7 separate regions of the Homo sapiens genome follow, and all the other regions are linked to region 1. Evidence: fine-mapped expression QTL. A gene starts in region 1. Each other region holds a variant in brackets. All regions are shown on one strand. Distances are from middle to middle. Region 1 holds the start of LINC02889 (long intergenic non-protein coding RNA 2889). Region 2 holds the start of LOC105375172 (a long non-coding RNA gene). Region 3 has its middle 120 kb from the start of LINC02889. Region 4 overlaps LINC02889 (long intergenic non-protein coding RNA 2889). Region 5 overlaps LINC02888 (long intergenic non-protein coding RNA 2888). Region 6 overlaps LINC02889 (long intergenic non-protein coding RNA 2889). Region 7 overlaps LINC02888 (long intergenic non-protein coding RNA 2888).

Evidence for each region.
Region 2: its variant is fine-mapped to the expression of LINC02889 in sun-exposed skin (GTEx, PIP above 0.99). The same link has a PIP of 0.9 or more in lung, pancreas and visceral fat.
Region 3: its variant is fine-mapped to the expression of LINC02889 in fibroblasts (GTEx, PIP 0.97).
Region 4: its variant is fine-mapped to the expression of LINC02889 in unexposed skin (GTEx, PIP above 0.99). The same link has a PIP of 0.9 or more in sun-exposed skin.
Region 5: its variant is fine-mapped to the expression of LINC02889 in blood mononuclear cells (TOPMed, PIP above 0.99).
Region 6: its variant is fine-mapped to the expression of LINC02889 in tibial nerve (GTEx, PIP 0.98).
Region 7: its variant is fine-mapped to the expression of LINC02889 in tibial nerve (GTEx, PIP above 0.99).

The regions. Positions count from the first base shown.
Region 1 is chr7:17,557,286-17,561,354 of GRCh38, forward strand. LINC02889 (long intergenic non-protein coding RNA 2889) reads right to left here and starts at 1,624. Exons shown (of 4, transcript NR_110013.1): 1 at 1,467-1,624.
Region 2 is chr7:17,461,406-17,465,474 of GRCh38, forward strand. All of the region lies in intron 2 of LINC02888 (long intergenic non-protein coding RNA 2888), which reads left to right. LINC02889 (long intergenic non-protein coding RNA 2889) reads right to left here. Exons shown (of 4, transcript NR_110013.1): 3 at 3,765-3,821; 4 at 2,040-2,137. LOC105375172 (a long non-coding RNA gene) reads right to left here and starts at 1,733. Exons shown (of 6, transcript XR_001745108.1): 1 at 1,693-1,733. The variant T/C (reference allele first, on the strand shown) is at 1,561.
Region 3 is chr7:17,678,792-17,682,860 of GRCh38, forward strand. No RefSeq gene overlaps it. Among named protein-coding and RNA genes, the nearest start is that of LINC02889, 120 kb to the left of the region's middle. The variant G/T (reference allele first, on the strand shown) is at 1,541.
Region 4 is chr7:17,496,104-17,500,172 of GRCh38, forward strand. All of the region lies in intron 1 of LINC02889 (long intergenic non-protein coding RNA 2889), which reads right to left. Among named protein-coding and RNA genes, the nearest start is that of LINC02889, 61 kb to the right of the region's middle. The variant G/C (reference allele first, on the strand shown) is at 2,469.
Region 5 is chr7:17,399,723-17,403,791 of GRCh38, forward strand. The region is part of intron 1 of LINC02888 (long intergenic non-protein coding RNA 2888); the gene reads left to right. Among named protein-coding and RNA genes, the nearest start is that of LINC02888, 27 kb to the left of the region's middle. The variant C/A (reference allele first, on the strand shown) is at 2,382.
Region 6 is chr7:17,471,209-17,475,277 of GRCh38, forward strand. The region is part of intron 2 of LINC02889 (long intergenic non-protein coding RNA 2889); the gene reads right to left. Among named protein-coding and RNA genes, the nearest start is that of LINC02889, 86 kb to the right of the region's middle. The variant G/C (reference allele first, on the strand shown) is at 1,744.
Region 7 is chr7:17,451,248-17,455,316 of GRCh38, forward strand. The region is part of intron 2 of LINC02888 (long intergenic non-protein coding RNA 2888); the gene reads left to right. All of the region lies in intron 4 of LOC105375172 (a long non-coding RNA gene), which reads right to left. Among named protein-coding and RNA genes, the nearest start is that of LINC02888, 78 kb to the left of the region's middle. The variant C/T (reference allele first, on the strand shown) is at 2,089.

The DNA.
Region 1 (4,069 bases):
TAATTTTTCATAACAGGACATGTTTGGCTCTAATGTGTGGGTTATGAGTCAATATATCAAATTTGACTAAAGTATTTGCTCTAAGTAGGGAGCAAGCCATTTAGCATTACAAATCCTGAACTTTTTGCAGGAAGGAGGGAAATAACTTTGATTTCTAAGCTCTCTTATTAAGATGAATCAAAGTTGATGAATAAACTTTCTGGATTGCTTAATACCTTCCAGATATCAGTATCAAGGCCTTGGCAAGGCAGGTGAAAATATTTCCATGAGCAAGAAGCAATTGAGAAGGACTTCCTCTGTGGGATAAATTCTTGGTAATTCCTGTGGGAAATTTTCCTTTATCCTAACATCTTTTTTTTTTTTTTTGCCTTGCCCAATTCTCAGTGTTTTTAAATACACAAAATACGGCTTTCTACTAAAAACTGGTAAATGAAGTTGGAAAAATACAAACACACACACACACACACACACACACACACACACACACACACGGTAGCCCTTTTATTGCAGCCATGTACGTAGCTTCGCTGAAGAGTTGACAAGATATATTGTGCAGCCACAGAGAGACACCACATCTTCCTTCCTCCCAGCACAACTTGTACAGTGATTAAATGTGATTAAAGTCTCAGGAACTTGGACACAGTCATATCTATTTTGGTACCACTGTCTTGATCCATCCCTACAGCCAGAAGGGAATCACCCTCTTTGTGTAAATGTTTGCTTTGTTGGAAATTCTCAAGCAGAAATTAATAGTATACATGCTTCAGGAGGAGTAGTAAATCAAGCATGATAAACAACTCCTAGGCAGTGTTTAGACTGGCCAAAAGTCATCTTAAGAATCGTGCACAATGATAGAATACCACGTTTGGCATCTATACACCAGAACTATCTATAAACAAAAAGCAAAATGGAGATCTGTCAATTAACCAACTAGTCTGATTAATGGGATCTGTCAGCATAGGTGGATAATAAATGACTAGAAAAGTAGCAAGTCTCCACTCATTCTATGTGGTGTAGACACAGTTAAATGAATCATGAATGTTTAGTGCTCTTTATAGCAGTTAGCGAACACACTTGGAACTTGTCTCGAAATTAGTTTTGATCTCTTGTTTGAAGTCAGATGCCAATATTCTAGACCCCTATGACATCATCTATTACAGACTCCTGGTTATCGAAGAGTTGAAACTAGTCAGATAGAATTGGCATGAAAAGAATTTTCAACAGAAAACAATCATGTTCAAGGAAGCCAAGTCTAGGATTTCAGGAGCTCAAAGTTTCAAATATTTTTATAAAAACATACATACATACACACACATACATACATTCATGTGGAGAGAGAAAATGAAAAGCAAGAAGACCTTTTCTTCCTTAGTCCAAATCCAATTTAATAATTATCCAGGGTATTCTCAGTAAAAACCAGGTATTTATGCCTCTATATGTATGTCACCAAAATGGAGCCAGCTTACCTGAAGGTCCTCTGAGGCTGTCACTTTCCTCTAGTGCTGTCCCATAAACCTGAAGGATATACAATAACAAAGGGGACAATTCCGTGGGACGAAAATCTTATTTTAAATAACTTCTCTATACTGACTTCAAGCCAAATGAAAAAACTACAGCTTTTTTGGAATTTTATTCCATTTCTGTTGTCTGATTCATAAGTGTTGTTAAATATTTACCAGGAACCTGCCAACAGTTTCTCAACATTAGTTAATCATAGGTAATGCTATTCCATTAACAACTCAATAAACTTCTTTAAAGTTGTACAAGGTAAATTTCAGTACCTTAACACTGCTAACCCATCCTTGTAGAATAAATATTTGCTTTGAGTTTCTCTATGCCAAGATTTATGGGATCAAGTAATCTAAATCTCCTTTTGTAAATAAGGTGTGCCCTCAAGAGGATGAGAGTGCAGACTCTACAGTCTTGTCTGCCTTCTCTCCACAGGTCCTTGAATAAAGCGTTCCATGTCTCCAGATAAACAGACTTGGGGCACTTCTGACCAGTATCCCAGCAGCAGAGGCTTTGGGAAATATTTTCAAGACGGTTCAAGCCTCCCTTCCACAGATTCTCTCACATCTGCCAGCCTGAAGTGGGCTGTGTTGGTTCATGTCTACCAGGACACTAAATGGCTGAAGGCCATTTTTTCTATTCTAATTATTGTTGCTTCTTTGTAACAATTTTTATAAAAGTCCAGCCTAATTTCTTTCCCAGCACACATGTATCTTCAGACACACATCTAAATCCAGGCTTTCATGATTAATCCTACTCTGAGTCAGCTGGGATAGAGCTCTGATGATGGGATATCCTACATGGTCATTAACTGCTGTTTGCACAAACACATCACTCAACGTGACTTCCACTGGATCTACCTTGTATGCAGAGTAGAAAGCTGCTTGTATGGAGTGACTTCTCTGTTGCCTGACCAACCACATGCAAAAATAACCTTTCCACTCACTGATACTGAATTCTACCAAAGAAGACAAGCCATCCAATCAACAACTCTCATAGTAAAGCACATGGCAAACATTATAACTGTATTACTGTATTATAAAACTGTATTATTAAAGTCTACTCTTACAGAATACTCGAGGAAATTAAAAAATGACAAATTCTCATTTATGTACACACCACTTATATCAGGTTCTTCTGGAGAATATATTCTGTTTGACGGAAGAGGAAGGAAGAGAGGATAAATTATGTTTATTGGAGAACTACCTAACCCAGACTTTGTACTAGGTGCTTTTTGAAAATTATCTCTTTAATTTCTGCAACCACAATAAGCCACAGATAACCCTGTCTTTGCTTCAGAGATGATTGTGCCCAGTCTCATAGGAGTTAAGCAATTTTTCCCAAGTCCTATAGCTGGTAAATAATCAGTTTAAGATTCAAGTAAATCATTTTATCAAAGCAACATTGAGGCAAGAAAGAAGAGTATGATATACAATTTTTAAAAGCCCAGACACCCACACATTTCCTGTAAGGAAAAAAATGTATTGATGTGTATGATAAAAATTAGGCCCTCAGCTCCTTGAAAAAGAATTGTTTGAGCCCCTGTAAATCTTTACCCAGTTAGTGTTCAAATAAATATTCCTGTAAAGATATCTTCAGGGTGAGAAAAGCCATAAACAAACTCCATTGTCATTTCCAGCATTTAAATCAGGACTAATCACAAGGAGCCAGTGTTAGCCCAATCCCCCTCACCTAGTTCCCCTCACTCTTTGCCAATACGCAGTTTTTAATCTGTTTCAGGAAGGAGTCCGAGGCGGTTTGGAAATACAAATTAACCTGAAACTACTTCCTAAGGCATTACCAGAAATCACGTTTTAGATGTCAAGATGACTTGCATTGTTCTAAACTTCCAGGCTGTGCCAATGGCCACAAAGGTAAATGGGGCATTGGGACAACCATGTGAAGGACTAAGTTGCAACATGAAGCAAGCACACTCTTCCGCATGAGTCACCTGAAAATGAAAAGAGAAGAATAGCTGGAAAAGATGATACTGTCTGACAACAGCATTTCAAATAAGACACAAAAAACTTGTCTGCATTTGCTTTCAGGTCATGAAATACCACATGAACTGAATGTTTGAGAACCCATTAGCTATGGATCACCCTGATTCAACAACCCAATTAATCATATTCTCAGGTCTATGGCATAATCAGTGTTTCTCAACCTACACTGCGTAATAAAATTACCTGAGGAAATTTTTGGCTTTTTGAGTGTTTTTATTTAAAAAGAAAAAAAAAATCAATGCCTGGACCCCAATACCAAAAATTTGGATTCATTGCTATAGGGTAGAGGCCAGGCACTAGTATTTTTAAAAAAGCTTTCCAGGTGATTCTAATGTGAGTCATGGTTGAGCACCACTGTTAGTTGTATGAAGTGGATTTAGAAATCTTATCCCTTAGACCCTTAGGGTTGCCAGAGCTGTCATGGCTATGAAACCTGCAAGAATTTGGGCAAGTTACTGGTCCCTGAGACTGTTTCCAAATCTCCAAAGTGAAAGCCAGAACACCTTTTAGGCACATGCTTTATCATGGAGGCCTGACGATCATGGTTTCAAAATAAA
Region 2 (4,069 bases), 96 kb before region 1:
TGAATCTAGTTTTACCTATTGTTTTCCTATTGACTACAACATTTTTACCATGAAAACATGGAATTTATAACAATTTGACCATGTATTTTTCCTCATATTATTTTGGGGACCAGACTGTTGCTTTGCTTCCAGGCATTGTAATTTGACATGTACTCTACAACAATCTTTAGCCCCCATTAGCTCTTAGTGAGACTATTTCCTCTAAACCTTTCCCATAGGTTTCACAACTTTCTTTTGAACGTTCTCCAAAAACTAAATCCTTACTTTGTTTAACCATATTTCCCCTTCTCTTCTATTGTGCATTTCTCTATGTTGAGAAGTCTTTGAGAAAGCAGGGAGTCCCTCTGCCAACTGATCCTATACTAGGATAGGCATGGGTGATGTAGGCCTTCTACAGGTCATTTAGAACTATGGGAGCAGGGCAGTAGGTAGAGCACAGAAGAAAGGAATTATGAAATGTCAGAGAATTAGGGGAAAAGAAGAGCAACAATTCTGATTTGTTGCCATGCAAAGACGGAGAGATTAAGATCGGAGGGGATGTTCCATATCAAGAGGATGAAGTGAAGGGATAAAGGTCCAGTTTACACAAAGAAGTTTAAAAGCCAGATGCAAAATCCCAAATCTTCATCATATACTGATAAGCCTTACCACACTAGTTGGAAAGGAGGTTCTAGACATCAACATGGGAAGAGGTGGAAAACCCCTTTGATCTTTCATAATGTAGAAACAGAATCCCAGAACAATAAAACAGACAACTAATCCTACTATTTTCTGATCTTTTGGCTCCTCTGAATCATTTTATAAACTTAGCTTCTCTGTGGGGGCCTAATCCTTGTCCCAATAGTCCACGTGGTTGAATGGCTGCCTGATCCAAATGCTTTGATCATACCGGAGTCTTGGAGTCTTTTCTACCATTTTTATAGGCACAACTTTCAGAAATACTTTCTTCAAAAGCCCTGTGCTTTGATAAACAGGTTTAAGTGCTATAATCACCAGGCATTTGAATGCAGATTAATTCATAAACCCAGATAATAGATCTTGTTCTGTCATGTTGTTTTTAGACAAAAGTTGAAAGCTTTGAAGAATGTGGAGAAACTATGAAATTTTAATAGCCTTGGGGCACAGAAACTTAACACAAAGAAAGAATCGTCATTCATTCAAAGAGTATTCATGGCCTTGGTGGAAAGATTGATGACAAATTCTGTGATTAATTACAGTTGTTGAAGAAAGTTAGAAGAAAAAAGGCACCAAGAGTTCTTGAGTTAATCAAAGACAGCAATTTGAATAAATGGTCCTAAAGTCCACAGTAATTATTTCGTCAAATGAACCACATTGTTACTTTGAATTGTAAGATTTTACCTTCATCCTGAAAAATAAAAATAAAAAATAAATGCCTTGGCTGAACATTATTGATTTGATAGGGAAAGTATCAGTTATTTTCCTACATAAAAGGGACTCATGAAATCTGAGGGTTGTGATATTTAGGTTTTCTTGCCTGAGGGAAGGTCATTTCACAGTAACCTCCAGAAAAAATGACTATATATTATGATTAGTAACTTA[T/C]CCATAAAAAGGATAATGATATCGTTTTGCTGTGTGTCCTCATCCAAATCTCATCTTGTATCTCCCATAATTCCCACGTGTTATGGGAGTGACCCAGTGGGAGATAATTGAATCATGGGGGCGGGTCTTTACCTTGCTGTTCTCCTGATAGTGAATAAGTCTCACGAGATCTGATGGTTTTAAAAATGGGAGTCTCCTTGCACAAGCTCGCTCTCTCTTTGCCTGCTGCCATCCACATAAGATGTGACTTGCTCCTCCTTGCCTTCTGCCATGATCGTGAGGCCTCCCCGGCCATGTGGAACTGTAAGTCCAAGAAATCTCTTTCTTTTGTAAATTGCCCAGTCTCAGGTATGTCTTTATCAGCAGCATGAAAACAGACTAATACAAATAACGTAACAAGAACAAGAATGAAATAATTGACATGAAGGACTCACCTGAACAATTACACCAAAAGAGCATCTTCTTCTTTCTCTAATCTACACAAAGCCCGTCCACAACAGGCCAATTCTATCAGAGACAAGGCTGATGGGAAGGTTCAGAAATAATTGCAGTTTTCCTCCTCACATTTCTATTGAATCTTTTGGAGAATAGAAAAATAAATTATTTATTACAAGGCAGGGGTTCTCAAGCCCTAGACCAGTACCTGTCCGTGGCCTGTTAGGAGCAGGGTCACATAGCAGAAGGTAAGTGGCAGGCAAGCCAGCATTACTGCCCAAGCTCCGCCTATTGTCAGATCAGTGGCAGCATTAGATTCTCATAAAAGCATGAACCCTATTGTGATCTCTGCATTCAAGTTATCTAGGTTGCGCACTCCTTATGAGAATCTAATGCCATCCCCCATCCACCCTGGTCCTTGGAAAAATTATCTGCCATGAAACCGGTCCCTGGTGCCAAAAATGTTGGGAACCGCTGTTGTAGTAAGTTTTCAATAGGTAACTTGCATTCAACAGCTTGTGGTTATAGCTTCCTGTTTGGCAGAGGAAAAGGATATCTCTATATATAGATATACATATCACAGATCTTAGAACTTTAAATATCAACTGTATTAGAACTTGACTACTGAGCTTGAGCTTGCCACCATTCTTAAAATCATCAGCTCTACTGCCATGCTGTTTTTTACATTTATATATTATAACTTCATCTTTAATAAAATATATATATTAGCTATTTTTCAATGTGGATTTTATGTGGTAAGTGTTCAGATCTAAGAATGTTATCTGTTTCCCAAGTAGCTTGTTTTTCCTGAGTGAAAATTTATGAACCCTACTTATGTTAATTAAAATTATATTTTAACCTTACTAGATCTGTGCTATGACTAGAAAATAGTTGTTAACATAAAATTTCTCCCAAAGTAAATGGATAGTTTAAAAAAAAATCCAGTAAAGTACTAAGTCATGAAAACTATATTTTCTTGACACTTTTTTCTAAGATGCATAACATGCTTTAATCTTTTATAAAATATAAACATTCTTTCATAATATATGAAGGAATTAAAACAGTGCATTTTATGCACTTGAAACCAAAAGTTCCCAATCTTCCTGCTCGTTAAAGAATGGAAATTAGACTGCTAGTTTTTCTTACTTTTTTAGCAACGTAACTAAACGTGATTTGGATATTAAGTCTCATTTTGGATAATCAAAATACATAAGCATGTGTGTGTGTGTGTGTGTGTGTGTGTGTGTGTGTGTGTATAAAATAAAACTTACAAAATATGTATGTGTGTATGTATATATTAAGCTTGTGAAGTCCTAAAAGCCTGGCAGAGTGGGAGAGACATGTAGCTCCAGTACCAGTAAAACAAACCACATGGCTAATTAAATGTGTTCTATTGATCTCTCCACTAACCGCTGAAAAATACATACAGATTTTCAGTTAATCAGCTAATAGTTTGGCATTCTGCGTGCTATATCTTTCTCACCTATTGTTGTGATTAACTCTATGATTTTAAGCTTTTATTTGTAGATTTGCACTTTACAGACTTCTAAGTCCTTGAAGCAAGCAAATAAAAAAATGTAGCTCAATGAGAACACTGCAAGTTATTGAGAACACTGCAAGTTATAAAAGTGGTCCAAGGAGTTTCACTATTTTTTCCTTGCAATGTCAGAACAGGATGAAAAGCAAATTTGAGGCTATGTTTCTTTCCCTGGAAGAACTATATATATAGTTGACAGGGACCCCCTCTCTTTTCACCCTTGCTGACTTACCACACTGTCCAACCAAGACTTGCTCTCTTTCCCAATCACTTCTTCACGAACCTCTCCCTGAAAAAGTAGAGGTGAAATGTAGGTATTAAAATTTTCCCACCATTTCAGAAATCACAACTCTTCCTAAGAGAAGGAAGGAAACATGAAAAATGGACAAAAGGCTGATCTAGATGTGCTTAATTTAGCAGTCATAGAATGGGAACTCCGTATTTGTATATTTTATATAGTTATGAATATTACATAGTATAGGATGAAAATTCAATAAATAAATGTATTTATTAAATAATTATTTATTTATCAAATAA
Region 3 (4,069 bases), 120 kb after region 1:
AAAGCGGGGCTACATCCATCAGTGCCGCATGCATCAGCCCAGTGATGAGGATAGCCGGGATGAGGGGGCTGTGGGTGATATCCTCCCCAGGGGAGTGGAAAAGAGAAGCCAAGGATGAATTCCTGAGATCTTCTACATTTAATGGAGAAGAATAAGAGTCTGAAAAGCATCTGGGGCAGTTAAAGAAAACCCAGGAGGTAGCGATACCATGAAAGCCGAGAAAACAGTTTCAAGGAAAAGGTTTGATTAACAACAGGGCCAAAACCACAGAAGAGTCAAGAGAAAGATGTCCTGTTAAACACATATATATATATATAGTTTTCTCTCTCTCTCTGTCTCCCTCCCTCTCTTCCCCCAGCAAAATACCTAATGCAAGAAGTCAAGATTGGAGAACCAAAGCATTTTTCTTCTGATCTTTAACCACAATCCCACATTATCCATCATTTCTTTAACTGTAAATTTCTATTATAGCTTCTTATCACAGTTTCTAGCCCATAGATTACTGTATTTTACAAATATATATATTTAGAAGCATATATATATGTAGAGAGAGAGAGAGAAGCAGCCTTACAAAATTAATTCTAATTATTTTCAAAATCAAAAGTCATTTCAGTTCTAGGTCAGAGCTCCCAGGATCGCCTATGAAAAGTTCTGAAGGAAAAACCTGGATAACATTTCTCTTTCCACAAGTCTCGCAAGGACATTCAGACCATCTGATTCATAACTCCCAGGAGATCAGGCTGATCCAGCACTTGTCCTTGTAAAAGCCGAAACCCTTTCCTTGGGATGCAGCAGCCTTATCACATGACCTCGGCTGGCCTAGCAGAGCAGGTGGGTGTGACATAATAAAATGCATTATGAAGGCCACCCTAGGAACTTTGGGAAGGGACTGGACTTGCCTCAAAAAGTATGCACATCCAGTTGGGGCGCAGGAGGGAGGAGGGGCCTGAGAGGGTAAATAAAGCCAGAGCTGCTAGGAGCTGAATTCCCTTTCCAGCAGCATCCTGAAGTCTTTGTTTCAGAATAAACTGGTGACAAGGAGAAAGGAGAGGAGGGGAGGGACAAGCTGGTGTCCTTTGGCCCATTACGTGCCTTTAGGTTTCCAGTGGTTCTCAGGCTTGCTACTCATTGGAATTACCTGGGGAGCTTTGAAAACCCTGGTATCCAGGGACAGGACCCAGACATTAGTATGTTTTTAAGCTTTCCAGGTGATCCCAATGTGCAACCAAATTTAGAACTTTAATACAACTGCCTAGCCTAGGATCACTCCTGGAATGTCCTGGGAGGGCATTCTCCAGACCCGGTTATCACGGACCCCTGGAGAGGGTCAATGGTCATCACAGAGTGCAGGGAAATTCCCTGACCTTGTCTCGTTAAGCAGTGCAAGCAGCAGCAGTTTCACAGGGCACATGACCCCCATGGCAGCCAAAAAGGGAATTAGCCACTTCAGCGGAGACGTTGCTTAAGGCAAAGGAATTTCCCCTTGTGCTCCTCATTTGCCCAAACAGAACACACGGTTTACTCATCCATTCTGAAGAAA[G/T]ATTTTGAGTTCTCAAGGATGTAGTCATTGTTCTATAAAGCCTTACAATTTAAAGTGTGAGCCCAAAACAGGAGTTTTGTCATCTTTGGGAAGCTTGGTGTGAATTCAGAATCTCTGGTTCTACCCTAGACCTGCCCAAAACTGTGTAAATACTGCTGGACTGGATGGAACACAGGATGTATTAGAATATTTTTCCTGTATTTAAATGTACACAAGAAAGGAAGACATGCTCATGGATTGACACATCTTGAGAAAGACTTGGGAGAAAAAGACAAAACAAATGTGTCAAAAAGAGAGAATGTAATACACAACCTTGCTTCATTTGAAACTGATTTTTGTTGTTTGTTTTTGTTTCGTTTTGTTTTTTACTTACCACCAGGAAATAGCTAAATTGAGTAAGAACATCTTAAAACTTAAGGGAGAAAAACTGAGTGATCAACCAAAACCTCAAGAGGAAATAATTAAGAATTTCTGGGGGGAAAATAGTGATAGTCTGTGAATGAGGACCCTACCGTATTAGCGCAATAATTAATGAGCCTAAAAGACACTGGTTACCATATGACTTTCCCTAAGCCTCAATTTCTTTAGGTGTAAAACAATACATTTAAATGAATAATCATTGTGGTCTCTTCTTGCTCAAAATTTTACCATTTGAAGATCCTTGACATTGAATCAAATATCCAAACCCAAATGAAAATAATTGTGCACAGTTTTAAGGATTATTTTACCACTAGGTGGCAATGTTGATTAAAAAATGTGAGAAACCAATGTAAACATCATTTTATTGTATTTTGTGGCTGACCTAAATCTGTTTTCCAAGGTTCGGGACATCAAAAAATTGAAGAATTGCACTACTATGCACTCGAGACCAAGAACTGAAACGTAGATTTGGAAAATATTCAGTAAAGGGACAACTGGAAAGGAAAGAAAAGCAGCTGCCTGAGGTTGACAGAGACAGTGAAACGCAGCAGGCCAAGCATAGAAGCTCACGGGATGAATGACCAGGGAGGAAATTCAGTAAACCTGGGTAGCCAAAGGATTCCAGATGCTGGTAATGTCCCCAAGGAGATTGCTGGCCCTTCATCCATGCTTGGTACCTTGAGAGGGCCCTAGGCTAAACACATGCCATGAGCTCTGATTGCTGGCAAGCAAATCTCATCACAATTTTTCTAATTTGTTTTATATCTGATTCCTAGCTACTATCTTCAATGTCTGGCTATTCCTATGGATTTCTGATTTTGCTGTGCTCTAGGACATAGCACTTCGGCTGTCCCTAGGAATTCATGCTTCAACTGCACCGCCTTACCTTGCTTCTACCTCCTGGACCTCACACAAACGACCCTAACTCAGGCAATGTTTGCACACCCCCTCCAGATTCCATGTCTGCTAAAGCATCGCATCTTGAAACTCCACAGAACCACTTCAAGCAAAGAATTACCAATCGTTAGGGCTGGAAGAAATTTAGAGATGTCATCATACCATTCCCTTTTCATTTTCAAAATAAAGGGAAAGAAACAGATATAATAATTACTTAATATTTAATAAGTTCTTGGCTGAAGGAGATTTATTAACTCTTATAACAAAAGTTCCAATACAAGCAGCTCCAGTTAATTCAATGGTTCAGCAACCCTATCAGGGCCCAGGTTCCCTCCACTCTCTCAACTTTGCTGTCTGCAGTGGACTGCCTAAGATGCCTTTGCATGCCAAGAAAGCTGTCTCAGCTCCAAGCACCACATCCGGACACACCAAAGTCCAAAAGAATGGGTCATTTTCCCCTTGTGCATCTCTTATTTAAAAATGAGAAAAAGCTTTCACGGAAACATACCAACAGATGTGCCTTCACAATTTATTGACCAGAACTGGGTCACCTGCCCAATCCTCCACAAGTCACTGTTGAGAGAACGGAAGGATCATAATTGGCTTTGACAAATCAGATCTGACTCATGTGGAGAAGAGGTGGACATTGGCACAAAACGGGTACTGCCAGCATGCAAGAAAAGAAAAATAAATCTTGGGTAAGTGAACCAGCACTGATTGCTGTATTGGGGTAGTGTAACTAAACACTAGGACATCACTGTGTTCAAGAAATAGGAGAGATCAGAAAAGAAGGAATGGGCACTTGCCTGTACTACCACTTTGTTGGGAGGATGAGGCGGGAGGATCCTTTGAGCCCAGGGGTTCAAGGCTACAGTGAGCTATGATTACACCACTGCTTTCCAGCCTGGGCAACAGACTGAGGCCCCATCTCTTTAAAAGGTTAAAAAGAAAAAGCAAGAAAGAAAACAGGGGACATTCAGGCAACTCAGACTCAAAGAATATTCCTTTAGCATCGGATATTAGTCCCACTATGACCTTCACTAGTCAGCTGATAGGAAGCTGATAGCTGCTGCTACTTCTCACACATCAGCATACTTTGCTCAGATGTATGCATCATTGTTCACTTGTCAAGCTGTTATGAGCAGCAGTTTTTCACAATGAACCAAATGAGGATGGAAGTTCAAATTAGGCTCTTAATTTGTCATCCGTTGA
Region 4 (4,069 bases), 61 kb before region 1:
GGGATTTTGTTTTCCACCTGAATGAGAAGGCAAACTGAAGCATATCTGAAACTCTGCATGTAGTTGTGCTTCCTGTCCTCAGGGGAGATGGCATAAGGATAGAGATAGAGAGCTTCTTGACAGGGACAACACACAGCCTGAAAGAGACGCCTGAGAAGGTGCTGGGAGTAGTCTCCTCTATGGAATAAGGCAGGCAGCAAGGTCAACAGGTGCCACCTTACTAGGGAAGAAAATGTAGGAAGAGTGAAAGGAACTTATGAATTCAGACAATGGGTATCAGCTTACAGGAATCATTAGCCTGACAGGTAGTAGTAGGTGATTCAAAAAAATTTAAATAAATTAAAAAGTTGACAGAGGTACAAAGGAAGCAACATTTCAAACATATTTCTCGTCTCTGAGGAGGGTATTTGGAATAAATTCAATTCTCTTCATAAACTATGCTTTTCTTGCCAAAACAAAATAGATCACAGCTCTTATCCACGCAGGAATTCCTTTGGTTTGTATGTAGAAAGGTAGCTCATCCTTTCAACATTATCCAGAATTAAATGTAGCCTTTATAACCCTTGGAAATAACAATGTAACACTTCTTCATAGGTGAGTAATAAATGACTTTTTCCAAAATCAACCATCAACCACAAACACTTGGCTTGCCTAGTGTTTTAAAACTGGAGAATATTAGGACAGGCTTATAATGGCAAATATTCCAGCTCACATGCCCACACAAAACCTAACTGTGCTTTTAGGGAAAATGACCAATATGAGCTCAAGGACAGTATTTTGTTCTATTTAATACATTGCAAAAATCATCTCATATCTGTAAAATTATGTACTATTTCTCTCTCTAGCTTAATCTATATCCTGACCTATCCATGCAGGAGAACTTTCTGTTCCCATTAAAATCTTATAGAGAATATACCTTTTGAATGAAAGTGAGGTGGGGAAATAAGCTAATGACCCATGGGTTATATTTCTAAGGTCTTAGCCCAGAGATGACAGAGTACAGGAGAGGTTAGCTCCAGTTGGTATGTAACGAAGCTAGAACAAAGTAAGGCCAAACAACAAAGCCGATATGTGTATGCAGGCTGCTAAAAATCCAGTGATCAAAGCAATTTAATGCTTGGGCCCCAAGTGTTTCCTGTTGGTCCAGTGGCTGATGACACACTGTCTAATAGGATGGCAACAGGGAAAATTAGTCCTCCAAGTCTCCTTCTGTTGGGAAACAAGATTACTCTCTCTGGATTTTTCAGTTCCATCTACAGTGTGGTTCTCAAACATGCCTGTACACTGGAATCCCTTGGGGAGCTTTAGAAACTAATGATGCCTTGGCCCTAGCCCCAGAGATTCTAATGAAGCTGTTCCAGGTTCAGCCTGGGCATCAGGATTTTTAAATGTTCCACAGTTGATTCTAACAAGCTAAAGCTGAGTTGTTGATTCTGCGGCACAAAGAGACTAAGTAGTGCTTCTCAAATTCTACCCTTGTAGGTCTGAGTAGGGTCTAAGATTCTATATTTCTAACAAGCTCCCAAGTGATGCTGGTGTGGTCCAGAAACAAGGCTTTGATTAACAGGGCTCTAGATCAGCAGCCACAATGAGGTTCCTGAAGCAGCAACAATGTCACGTGGAAACCTGTTTAGAAATGCAAATTATCAAGCCCAACCCCAGATATACTCAATCAGTCATGGGGTGGGGCAGGTGGAAGAGTAGCAAACTGCATTTCAACAAGCCCTCCAGGTGATTTTGGTGCCAGCTAAAAAAACCAAGGGTCAGAGCGGTATTATTCAAAGTGTGGTTATCAGAGCAGCAGCAGTAGCATTGCCAAGGAGTTCATAAGATGAATTCAGGATTTCAGGCCCCACCCCAAACTTGCTGGATCAGAAACTGCATTTTAATGACATCCCAGGTGGTTACTATGCATATTAAAGTGTGAGAAGCCCTACAGTCTTGGCAAATTTCCTCCTCAAAACCGTTGCCCAGAATGACAGATAAAAAACCACTCATTTGAAAAAAAAAAAGCCTAACGACAACGTTAATTATAATTGTAATATCTGGTAGGTTTCTTTTTAATTACAAAAAGCCCCACATTTTTACAGTGACAAGTTTTAAAACATGGAAAAACCTCATCAAACAAATGGAAATCACATGTGATCCCACCAAGCAGCTAAAACTATTGATAACTTTATTCTTCCATCCAAAGAACTGTTTCTAAAGAGAGAATAAAAACAAGTTATTGAAAGAGACAATATTATCCTGCTCCAACAGACACTTGGCAATGTTTCAACTGAAACTTTCACCTATCAGTGTAACTTCCCAGTGGGTTCACCTAGCCCGCTGCCTAGACAGACCTGATTTATCAAGACAGTGGAATTGCAGTGGAGAAAGAGTAACTCACGCGGTGCCAGCTGTGCGGGAGACCAGAGTTTTATTATTACTCCTGTCTCCTGTAGTTAAAGATAATTTTGTGGGTAGGG[G/C]CTTGGGAAGTGAGGAGTGCTGATTGGTCAGGTTGGAGATGGAATCATAGGGGGTCTATGTGAGGTTTTCTTGCTGTTTTCTGTTCCTGGGTGGGATGGCAGAACTGGTTGAGCCAGATTACCGGTCTGGGTGGTGTCAGTTGATCCATCCAGTGTAGGGTCTGCGAAATATCTCAAGCACTGATCTTAAGTTTTATAATAGTGATGTTATCCCCAGGAGCAATTTGGAGAGGTTCAGACTTTTGCAGCCAGAGGCTGCATGACCCCTAAACTGTAATTTCTAATCTTGTAGCTAATTTGTTAGTCCTGCAAAGATAGACTGATCCCCAGGCAAGAAGGGTGGGGGGGGTGGCTTTTCAGGAAAGGACTATTATCGATTGTGTTTCAGAGTCAAACCATGAACTGACTTCCTTCCCAAAGTTAGTTCAGCCTATGCTCAGGAATGAACAAGGACAGCTTAAAGGTTAGAAGAAAGATGGAGGCAGTTAGGTCTGATTTCTTTCACTGTCATCATTTCCTGAGTTATAATTTTGCAAAGGTGGCTTCATCTTTAGCCCAATGTGACAAAAATACGAGTCTCTTGTTTAGAATAATGTTGGTTACTGAAGGAGATACCATGACATCGGTTCCTGTGGTCATCTTGGGAATAAAAAACCTCTTTGCCATGTTTGAGAATGTTGAAACCAAGTTATTTTGTTCTAAGTTAGAAGGTCAGAGCTCAGACTTAAAAATACCAGCCAGTAATGAAAAACAGAGCGGCCGCATTTAGGTTACCAGCAGTGAATAAATTCCCAGATAGTTGAAACACCGCTGTATACTGGTGACCTTTAAACGTATAATGAGTAAATAGTTTGGGGGGAAAAAAAGGAATTCACATGGATCTCAAATTGTATTCTCTTTCAATCTGTAACAGATCAGCTTTTCTGTTAGAGGTCAGATTGTTAAAATTTTGACAAATTTGGCTGCCTAGAACATCTATGGCCTTAGCTGTCAAATCAGAAGCCTAGCAAAAGAAACTGGAGCTAGACTGGTGAAAACTAAAATTTAAACTGTTGCTTTTTGATATGATTCTTGCTTTAGAAAGCTGTCAAGGTATTCAGCAAGTGTGCCAATTTTCTTAAATGAGTCTGAACTTCAAGACCCTTCCCTTACCTGGGTGAATATCTTTTGCATCAAATCCCAATGTAAGAATGAAACTACACATTGGGATAAGGAGCTGGAACAAATCATGCTGTTTCTGTACAAAGAGAAAAACATACTGGACTGGACACAGCACACAGTGATGGGAAGTAGAGTAACTTGAAAACCAGAAGATGAAGAGTTTGGAGGGGGAGTCAGGGCTGGGGGTTATAATAGAAAAGACATGTGGATGGCAATGCCTGTCAAAGAGGCACCAAGGAGAAGGGGATTGCCAAACTGTGTTAGGAAAAAGGTCACTGGATCTGTTAGAACCTGTGGAACTGGTTAATTACCTTATAATCAATATAATAAAATTACATGTGTGGCTATTTGATTATCATTACCCCATTGCAAAGAAATACAATGTTAATTTTCTTAGTTTTCCTCCTAATTTGGAGGACATGTTTGGGATGGTTTAGTTG
Region 5 (4,069 bases), 160 kb before region 1:
AGAGTAGAAGTTGGAGAGTGTGTGTGTGTGCACATGTGTGTATGTATATATGTATGCATTCACGAATGGAAAGAAAACTAGTTACTTTGAAATCTAAAAAAAAAAGGAAACACCCTTTTTTTTCCCCACATATTCGTTCATTTTCTTAGCCCCCTGGAAGAACATATTGTTTTCAAAATCTACCTGCAGGAATCCAAAAGCCAAATTTTGAAGCTGCAAAAAGAGAAACTGAAAAATAGAACTCCTTCTGTCTCTTTGAACCATTTCCTTGTATCTTGAGGGTAACTGATACACATTTCACAACACGTGACTTTCAAAGATGATGAATGACAGGGAGGCTCGGTGTCAGACTCCAGATTGTCTTCTGGATCTCTTAGATTTGGGAAGAGATGAGAATAAGCAAACCTTTTAACATAAAATCATCCTATTTAATTAGAAGGGTGTATGGAATAGTCTTAAGGTAAAAGGAAACATTTTCAACTTCTAATTCCTTTCTGGACATATCCTTTTAGGAGGAAGTTCTAGTGATGAGATCAAAGTATCACTTTTCCCCCAGAGGACAGTAATATCACTTTCCCTGTGAAAAACTAGTCCAGTCCATTTAAAGACAGGATTTTAGGATATATTATTCATGACTGTGCTTTTAAAAACCTAAGTGTGAGTTTTATAACTCTAAATTCAAAATTGTCTCTATGGTTTCATTTTTAGGAGTTCTGCACATAAGCTGAGCAGATCCTTTGAGTCAAAGCCTAAAATCTTAGACTTAGAGGTCAGGCATCTTCCATTTGAACCCTGGCATAGGCACGTATTTGCTGTAGGACTGGCCAGACTGTCAAATCTGTGTCTCAGTGTCCTCAGTCTTTAAATGGGGATAAAAATAGCACCAGCCTCAGATTGTAGAAGGATTAATCAAATTACCTCATGCATAACACTTAGCACAATTCCTTCTACATTATAATCACTTAATAATAAATACGAGTATAATAACAACGAAAGTAACAAATTATGTTGAAATAAATTATTTAACTCAGTACAGGCAGGGCCTAAAATGTTGACGTGACTTTCAAGTGTCTTGAGTTCTTAAGGAGAATGTAATCCCACTGCGATGGGACTGAGCCATAAACAGGCAGAGCTTTTGCTACTCCTTTAGAGCCCACCTCAGTATCCTACAGCAATCGAAGAGACAGTACAATACCCACAAACAGCAACTGAAAGCAATTTAAATCTCTAATGAGGTGTCCTGAAAAATTCTAGAGGAACATTCTACTTCTGATGCAGAGAAATACTTCCTAAAATCTTCTTTCCCTGAGACTCCTATAATTGTCTCACCAGAAAAGGAGTTGCCTTCCCTTTGCTCAGTTTGACTCAAGCTCACTCTTAGTGCAGCCCACATTGGCTTCTGTCCTCTTTCTCTTTGCACAGAAGCAGCTCTTCTGTTTATTTACTGACCCTCTGCCCTTTCCAGTCCAAAGCAATCAAGTCACAGTGGACTAATTTGAAGTCTTTTTCTCCCTTTCATCTATTATGTAACATCTACACAACAAAATTTGAGAAACATAGAAATCAGAGCTTGAACCTGGATGCCTAAACCAACATCCATCTCAGCAGGTAGAGTAGATGGTGAGATTGTGATGACCATATGTTTTTTCCTGAAGCATACGTACTACTATTTAAAGCATGGGTCATTTTCTCCTAAGACAGAACTTAACAAAACATGAGCCTTTAAATAAAGTATCAATGTATGTATAAATGAAGTCATCTCACTAGCATCATTCAGTTTGAAGAATACATTCAATGATCCAGAGCCAATATTAAATCTATAATATGAAATGGGCAGAAAAAAAATAAGACTCCAAATTATCACCTTCCCAGAAACCAACCTCTCTCTCACCAACTGCTCAGAAAAGAAGAAAGCAAATATAAAAGAAATATGACCATTTTGTTATTTTGCTCTTACATGGAATTGAAATTAAGCTATATGGAAAATTCACTAAATTCTACCGATCTATCTTTTTAAAAGGGAAATGTTAAGCAGTTCTGAAAGAGTGCACCCAGCTTCCTTTCCAAAGGATACTGCTAATGGAGTTGAACACACCCTTCCTGTCACCCCAGGTGCTAAATATGTGGAAGTTGGGAATATCTAAATGCTTGGAGATCCTGAAGATACTCCCTGAGGTGGCTATAAAAAGACTACGCTTGGCTTCTGAGAATGTAGTGGCAGACACTTTCACTTTATTTTATTTTACTTTATTTTATCATGGGAGGAAGTTTTATTGAGTCACCATCCCCCTACACCTCAACTTCTCTTTTTTAAAAATATGTGTAAGTTTTTTCTACTTCTGTCTCTCAGGAACAGGTTTTTGGTGGTTCAGAAATTTCTC[C/A]CACTTTTACCTGACTGTGGGCAACCTCAGCAACAGAGGCTCCTGGAAATATCCTCCACCTATTTTTCTCAGATGTGAGAACGGTTGACTGGAGTTATGAGGGGGAAGTGGCTGGTGCAGAAAGTTGCCAAAAGGGTGATGGAAAGTTCTTTACTGATGAAAAAAGAAAAGAATAATAATTCATATTTATCTTTTGACCAAGACAAGATAGGAACAGAGGTGCCTTTGCTTGCTTTCACCTCAAGCAGGAAGTGAGAGTCCTATTAGCCTCTGGGTTCTGGGAAGTCAACGATTTGGGGTTATTTTTCTTCCCGCCCATTTCTTTACCTTACTCATAGGTTTAATATTGACCTCTGTCTTTATCACTGAATCTGTTTTTCAAATTGAGCAATTCTCAATTTGTCAGATGATTTATTTTTTACATATACATGAATGTTTTGTTGAAACAAGACTTTCAGCGGTATCAGTCATGGGGGAGCTTAGCTGTGAACCCGGAGGTGAGAGTAAAGTCTTAGAACAAAGAGGAATTCGAAATTACGGAACATTTTTAACTTCTTTACTCAGTGGTAAAGAATGGAACATCTTTTACGTCAAACTACTGAAGTTGTGGGCAAAATTACAAGCGATGATTATGCAGGATAGGTTAGTTTTTGGCCATTTTAGGCTTTTCTTGATTTTATGGAGTAGTCTGAAAGGAGTGAGCTGGTGAGAGAATTTACTAGGTGCTGAAGCAATGAGAACTGACAGCTGATATACAGGGGAAGAGCTCCGTTTCAGTCACATTGAATTTGAGGTGCCTTTAAGAGGAGGTAATCAGGAAGAATTTGCAACAGTTCTTTAAACCCCGGTGGATATCAGAGCTAATCATGTATCCGTGGGAGTTGTCAGGGTAAATCTGATGACTGATGCCAAGAACCTCACATAAGGAGGTCAGGTGGCATGAGAAGAGATGATGAGTGAGAACACAAGCTGAGAAAGAACAGTATTTAGAGGATGGACTGAAGGACAAGTGGGGGAGTTTGAAAATGCGGAGCTGTAGAGGTAAAGGACACTGAGTATATCTGCTCTGGTCCTTTGGGGACTTTCCACAGCACTAGCTTCACCTTGGTTGCTTGCCAACTGCTGAGACAGTAAGTCCAGATTTTAGTATTTGACCCACGCTGCCTTCTCCAGATCATGCTCCTTGATATTACCTCTGAATTTGCTGAAAGAAAAACATTTCCACTCAAATATCACTTGAACATGATTTATGAGTAAAATGAATAATATTTTACTATAAAACATACAGAGGTGAGTCTCATAACGATATTCAGGGTGGCCCCAAGCTATCTTCTTTTTTTTTATTTTTAAAGTTTTCAAAATATTTTCAGGCCAAGTGTGGTGGCTCATGCCTGTAATCCCAACACTTTGGGAGACTGAGGCAAGAAGATCACTTCAACTCAGGAATTTGAGACCAGTCTGGGCAACATAGCGAGACTTCATCTCCACTTAAAAAAAAAAAAAAAAAAAAAAAACTCAAATGTGGTGGCGCACGCCTTTGGTCCCAGCTACTTGGGAGCGCTGAGGTGGGAAATCTCTTGAGCCTGGGAAATAACGGCTACAGTGAGCTTTGATCGTGCCATTGCACTCTAGCCTGGGTGGCACAGTGAGACCCTGTTTCAAAAAAAGTGAATATATTTAAGGTATAC
Region 6 (4,069 bases), 86 kb before region 1:
CCAATTAGAAAATGGGCAAAAATCATGAAGAATAATTTTGCTGCAGATGGTGTACAGATGACAAATAAGCATCTGGAAAGATGCTCAACATCATTAACCGTTAGGGAAATCCAAATTAATACCACAGTATAATTACAAAGCTCTCAGAATGGCTAAAATAAAAAATAGTTGACTACACCAAATGCTGGTGAGAATGTGGAAAAATTGGATCACTCATATGTTTCTGGTGGTAAGATAAAATAGCCTGGACACTGTGGAAAACTGTTTTGCAGTTTCTTAAAAAGCTAAGCATGCAAACACCATACAACTGCACTCCTGGGCATTTGTCCCAGAAAAATTAAAATATTCACAAAGAAACATGTACATGAATGTTTATAGCAGTTTCATTCATAATAGCCACATACAGAAAAAAAACCATGTGTTTCTTAATGGGTGAATAAACCATGGTACATCTATACCTTGGAATACTACTTGTCAATAAAAAACAAACAATTGCTAAATAAAACAACCTGAGAAAATCTCCAGAGAACTATACTGAGTGAAGGAAGAAAAATCCCCAAAGATTACACACTGTATGTCATTTATATAACATTCTTGAAATGACACAATCACAGAAATAGAGAATACTGGTCACTAGGCATTAAGGAAGGTGTGGAAGGATGTAGTGATGGGAGGAAATGTGTATGGCTGTAACAGGGCAACAGAGGCATCATTGTGATGATGGAAGTGTTCTGTATCTTGTGTTTTTGAATGTCATTATCCTGGTTGTGATATTGTACTTAGTAGTTTTGCAAGATATTACCACTGAAGAAAACTAGTTAAGGGTACACAGGATTTTTCTGTATTATTTCTTATAAGTGCATGGGAATCTACATTTATCTCAACATAAGTTTCATTTTAAGAATTATATATTTTCTGAATCTTTAATAATGTGTCAACTAGAATTTAACTGGGTATATTTTTATGATAGAAATCTACCTTACCATGCCCTTTGTCACTTGAGTAATCATATATTACATGACTCAAAGGCACAGAAATCCAGTAAGTAAAGAAAAAAGGTGTCTATTTATCTGGAGACAGGGTCTCACTCTGTTGCCCCAGCTGGAGTGCAGTGGTGCTATCATAGCTCACTGCAGCCTCAATCACCTGGGCTCGATCTCCTCCTGCCTCAGCCTCCCCAGTAGCTGGGACTACAGGTGCCACCACATCCAGCTAATTTTTTATTTTCAGTAGAAATTAGGTCTCACTCTGTTGCTCAGGCAGGTCTCAAACTCCTGAGCTCAAGCAATCCTCCTGCTTCAGCTTCTGAAGTGCCAGGATTACAAGTGTGAACCACTGTGCCCAGTCATGGTTTTTTCTGTTGTCGTTGGGTTTTTTTGGTTGTTGTTTTGTTTTTGTTTTTAAGACTTGCACTGTCACCCAGGCTGGAGTACAGTAGCGTGATCCTGAGACACTGCAACCTTTGCCTCCCAGGTTCAAGTGATTCTTGTGCCTTGCCACCTGAGTAGCTGGGACCACAGCTGTGTGCCACCACGCCAGGCTAATTTTTGTACTTTTAGTAGAGATGGGGTTTTACCATGCTGGCTAGGCTGGTCTTGAACTCCTGCCAGCCTCATTTTAAAACAAATTTTCTAACCAAAAATATACTCACAGGTTGAATTCAATGGCCCAGAAAAAAAGTGAAAGTATAATTGCCTTTATAATACAGTGCAATAGACCATAGAATATTTAAATCTTTAAATG[G/C]TTTGGCATTTCCATTGAATTGTTTATATTCTATGCAGACTTGTATTAGTGTTAATCCATTAGCAAACACTAAAATTATATAAGTGCTATTAATTTTATTAGGAAAGAAAGAAGTGTACTTCTTTCTTCTGATATGAATCATGGTAGCGCTTGGATGAACATTAGAGCCTATCCAGCACAATTTTTTCACCTTAAGAGGAAATGGAAGTAGTTGAAATTTAAATGTTGCATCAAAGATGATACAGCTAATATCCAGCACACAAAGCCTCCTACATTGATTCTTAGATATACTTAGAAGTCACAAATGCAAAAGCCTTTTACTATTGTTACAAAACACAGCAAGGAGATATTTATATTCTGTATCGTGTAAAGTCATCCTGGAGTTGGGGATCCAGCCTGGAATTGCTGGGCATCAGGGACAGTGAAGTTGTGCAAGCATGTACATTGTCTAACGCATGCTCGAAGTTATATTTATCTTCAGGACATCCGATTTGACTCACGTTCATTGGTCCTATATTTTTATCGGTTTTAATTAACTATGTCCTTTAGCAATCCTTACCTCTATCTTTCCCTTTTGCATGTGTCAGGGTAATCTCAAGTATAAGTCACCCAGAGAGGAAGAAAATATTTTTTGTTTTATCTTATGTTTGTGGCTACTAATAGCAGTATTAAAAATTAAAGTACAACAAAATATATAAGATTACAGAATCCTAGGAAAATAAAATAGGAATGTGAAAACAGATCTAATGAGGTATTAAACCTCTAGCAGAGAGCCCCCAATCTCTTATCATGTTTCTTTAAGTCATTAGAATTGTCCTGCAGGCTAAAAAGAGCTTCGTTCTGATGATGGCCCCAAATGCTTTTTTCTCCCAATGATGTCAACTTGCAAAGTTTGGCACGTTCTCTTACAACATTCTAATGTCCATTAATGACCTCTTAATGCTAATTGGTACACATTATACCATCTGTAAATTTTAACACATCATGTTATTTTCAACAATACTTGTATCTTCATCCTATTCTGGTATCAGATAAAGCCAACCAGGCAAAGGAAGCCATCTTAAAGCAACACTGGTGTGATTTTGCTCAGTCTGAGCAAGAGATTCTTTGCTGAAAAAAACTACACCTAGATGGGTCGTTTAATTCAACTTTGTGAAGACACTAAAGGATTGATAATGGCAAAGCAGGTTACACAAAGTTTACTGCCTATTTGATTTAAACAATTATTTAGGTGTAGATAAGAAAATACAACTTACAATGGGTTTGTGGGATATAGTTTAGAATTTGCTCTAAAGAATCTGGGATGACTATAACCAGGGCCTTGGTTCCAGTCTAGCCTGGAGTCCCTTCCTTGTGTCATCCAAGTTCACAATTTGTCTTTGTGTGTTTGGTGCAGCTTCAGTCACAGTTGGGGATAAATTGGGATTCAATGTTCACATTCTGAATATGGGTCCTTGTTATATACAAAAATGTTTCTAAATCTGTTATTGGTAACACAGTAAATGAATTGGATTAGGAGGTCATTATTAACAGGTCTGACATCTGTGGGCCTGTCTAGCAGACAGGATGCAAACAGACAACAGAGAGCCTCAAGGAAACAACAAACAAAAATCAACATGAAACAAAAATATCTGGCCATAAAGATGCAGAAGATGAAGACTTTCGGAGTAGACTTGTAAATTGGAGCGAACAGTGGGTCCAGGCACAGTGGGAGCCCCACCCACACCCCGTAACAGTCCTTCTAACCTTCCCCATCCAACATTCTTGCCTACCCTGACAGGGAAAGGACTGCAGTTAAGGGTCCAGTCCTACTGTGGGATTTCTCCTGGGAGCGCGCTGGTCATGAGAAGTGAATAGAGTTTCTCTTCATTCCCCACGAAGAGAGAAGAGCCCCAGGGGTCGGTGAATCTGAAGGATCAGCTGCAGCAGTCGGAGGAGAAGGTAGAGAAGGGCGAGGCTGACCTACACCTAGACAGAGGTGCCCAGCTCTTATGCGAGCAGCAACAGGGACCTAGAGCCAGCCTGACGCTCACCCCAATGCACACACACCAATCACCTGCGGAGGCTTTCTCCTGGATTTCCTCCTAATCCAAGATGCAAGGCTCAAATGTTAAAATATTAGGTATTGCTCCAAAGTTGTCTCACTGCTTAGAAATGCCTGAGACATCCTGCAGGGGGCCGACCTCCTCTCTCATCGGTGCTCTCAGCCCCTCTGCTCTCTCCTTCCGGTTGGTGCTCTTTGAGCAGCTAACTCCACTTTCTGATTATCCTGAAGTGAATTCCTAGTTGGAATCCAGGTGGAAAAAAAATCTAACAGCCAAAACGT
Region 7 (4,069 bases), 110 kb before region 1:
AATTTCTTTGAAATGCTTATCTATGACTAGAAGCATTGCTTTCTTCTACTCTATACAGATAGTAAATTTAAAGGCACATTTGGGGACAGGATTGTGGGTTTTCTCAAATAACCTTCTTAAATAGGTAGAGAAAGCACCTCTAGTCTTGGTTTTTTAGAGAAATTTTTAATATTATGTTCAATTTTTTAAGGCAAATAAAGTAAGCTGGGATATGATTTTTATTTATCAAGGTAATTATTTTCCCTAAAGTTTAAAGAAAACTTGAAGGAACAAATAGGTGTAGCTGGAGCAAGTTTATTGAGGTATAGATACACCACACCACTAATTTCATAGTGTAGACAGTCCTCTCAGAATGGTATCAAGAGTTCTTTGAAAGGGCAATACAGTTTCCGAAAGCCCTACAGGAAGACCTGGGTAGTGACAATAGTACCATCTCTTCTGGAAACCTCACTCTGAAATGAATTATACTCAGGGCAAAAAGCATTCTTCTGTATTTGTAGGTAGCCTAAAATGTACATCACAGCTGCCTGGGCTAATTTTATAGGGCTCGTGGAGGCTCCTACATTTGCTATTCACAATGGCAAGCTGAGCTCAATATTTGAACAAAAAAAGTTAAATTTACCAACTGTAGGATTTATATTCTCAGAACAAAAAAATAAATGAAACCTTTAAGGGAGCTTAGAAAGTACAACCATAAAGAAATAGTCATGAGTCATTTCTTCAGTTAAACCAGCATCAGTACTCAAGTATGATTACTATATTAGAAAAATCATCTTTAAACACAAAGAAAACTTCTGCTTGTGTATATTCATGATCACCAATAAAAAGGTTCTACCAAAGGGCCAGTCACCCAGGTGTTCATGTACATACAACAGCATATCATGATGGACACTAGAAGCCTCGCCCTACAGTCTCTGCTCTTAGGTTCCACCTCTGACCCTCACTTGTTGGGCTTATCTTCGGCAAATCTTTAGCCTCTCTCTCCCTAAACTGCATCATCTGAAAAATAGAGATGACAATAGTACTTGGCTCACTGAGTTGTTATGAAAATTAAGTTAGTACATGTAAAACCCTTTTCTGGCACATGGTAAGTGCATGTAACACTGTTCTTTTTCTTATTCAATGTGTATATACCAAGGGAAAGGTTTAAATAAAAACATTAAGTTAAAATAATTTATTCAAAAGCCATGCCACTGTTAAATTAATACAGTCAAAACTACAAATAAAAAAAGAACATGCAAAATATTTTATAATATTGTATAAAGGCTTATATGTGTAAGCTTAAAAACCCTTCATTTATGAATCAATTTGTGCATAAAAATTGTATACATGCAGAGACTTGGGCCAGAATGGATATTGTTGAATTAATTTCAAAAATACGTTTTACAGCTTTTCCAAAACTCTTTAATGAAAAGTCAGCAAGAAGATAATGAGAAAGGACCAAACAGATGTTGGCTTCTGCTGAAATTTGCCAAACTTTTACAGCATCATTATGATAGCTTTCCGTTTAGGTCACCACAGTTTAAAAGTAAGTGGGACATTTGGATCTAGAAGAGAGCAGTGATGATTAAAGAGTTGGAAACCCAGGCTTAAGAGGAAGGGACCATGGAAATGATGTTGGTTGGCCAAAAGAGGAGAAGGCTGTGGGTGCCTTAATTACAGTCTCAGTATATATATAATACACCATGTAAATGAACAGATGTTGTTCTGCAATGAAAATAGAACAAGATGGGAGCACTGTGGCTCTGATTTGAGAACCATCTTTGTCTATAAAGAGTTGTTGAATAACTAAACCTCTGTTCTCTCAACCAATATCTATTCATTTCCTCTATTTTTATACCATATTAAGTGCTAACGGTTGATAATTCACATATTTAGACATATTGCATGGAATATGCTCTATAATTGTATTGCAGGAGACTTGGTGACCTATACGCATTAGAGCATGGGAAAGACAGGAAACTAGGTTGGTGCAGTGACACATTTTGGATTCCCACTTCCGTCTCACAAGGATGCATGAGTATCCTGAGACCACCACAGAAGATAGCTAGGTGGGAGTCTGCTTGTTGATACATCAACCAAAAGGAC[C/T]GCCCTGGGGGCAAGTAGAGTGCTTCTTCCAGCTCAAGGAATTATGCGGTGAGCAGGCTTTCCTTGCAGGCCCACCTAGCTCCCCCAGGGAGGACATTCCAATAACCAGTTTTGGATTACCCCAAAAGACATCTATCTATCTATCTATTTAAATGGTCTTTCCTGTAAATAACACTTCACTTCTGATACCAAATGTGTAGGGTTTATTTCCAGTTCCTAGCAGACACCAACTTGGTGTCCTAAAATGCAATTAAATTCTAACACTATCTATCAGAAATTAGATCCCACAAGATTGTCCACACTTCACATGCCAATAGCAAGTCCCAGCCTCCTGTACTTCTGACTGACCAGCTATACACTGGGAGTTTCCATAACTCTCATCTCAGTTTCAGTAATTTGCTAGAATAGCTTACAGAACTCAACATTTACTCAATTTACCAGTCTATTAAAAATAGTATTTTGTTGAGAATGTTTGCCTCTGTGTTCATCAGGGATATTGGTCTGTAGTTTTCATTTTTTATGTCCTTTCCTGGTTTTGGTATTAGGGTAAAACTGGCTTCATAGAATGACTTAGGGAGGATTCCCTCTTTATCTTTTGGAAATTGGTACCAATTCTTCTTTGAATGTCTGGTAGAATTTAGCTGTAAATCTGTCTTTTTTGGTTGGCAATTTTTAAATTACCATTTCAATCTTGCTGCTTGTTATTGGTCTGTTCAGAGTTTCTATTTCTTTCTGGTTTAATCTAGGAGGGTTGTATATTTCTAGGAATTTAACCAACTCCTCTAGGTGTTCACAGTAGCCTTGAATGATCTTTTGCATTTCTTGGTATCAGTGATAATGTCTCCCATTTCTAATTGAGCTTATTTGGAACTTCGTTCTTTTCTTGGTTAATCTCACTAATGGCCTATCAATTTTGTTTATCTTCAAAGAACAAGCTTTTTCATTCATTTAGTTCTGTTCTGATCTTTCTTTGTTATTTCTTCTGCTGAGTTTGGGTTTGTTCTTGTTTCTCTAATTCCTTGAGGTATGTGACCTTAGATTGTCTGGGCATAAAGGGTATCCAAATTAGTAAAGAGGAAGTCAAACTAGCACTGTTTGCTGATGATACGACCATATATGTAGAAAACCCTAAAGACCCCTCCAAAAAGCTCCCAGAACTGATAAATGAATTTAGGAAAGTTTCCAGATACAAAATCAATGTACACAATCAGTAGCAATGCTATATACCAACAATGACCAAGCTGAGAATCAGATCAAGAACTCAACTCCTTTTATAATAGCTGCAAAACAAATAAAATACTTAAGAATACACCTAAGCAAGGAGATGAAGGACCTCTATAAGGAAAACTACAAAACACTGCTGAAAGAAATCACAGATGACACAAACAAGTGGAAACACATCCCATGCTCATGGATGGGTAGAATCAATATTGTGAAAGTGACCATACTTCCAAAAGCAATCTACAAATTTAATGCAATTCCCATCAAAAAACCACCATCATTCTTCACAGAACTAGAAAAAAAAGCTAAAATTCATGTGGAACCAAAAAAGAGCCCATATAGCCAAAGAAAGACTAAGCAAAAAGAGCAAATCTGAAGGTAGCACATTACCTGACTTCAAACTATACTATAAGGCTATAGTCACCAAAACAACATGGTACTCGTAAAAAATAGGCACATAGATCAATGGAACAGAATAGAGAACCCAGAAATAAAGCCAAATACTTACAGCCAACTGATCTTTGACAAAGCAACACAAAAACAAAGTGGAGAAGGGATACTGTATTCAACAAATGGTGCTGAGTTAATTGGCAAGCCAAAGGTGGAAAAATGAAACTGGATCCTCATCTCTCACCTTAGACCTGAAACCATAAAGATTCTAGAAGATAACATGGAAAAAACCCTTCTAGACATTGTCTTAGGCAAAGACTTCATGAACAAGAACCCAAAAACAAAGATAAATAGGTGGGACTTAAACTAA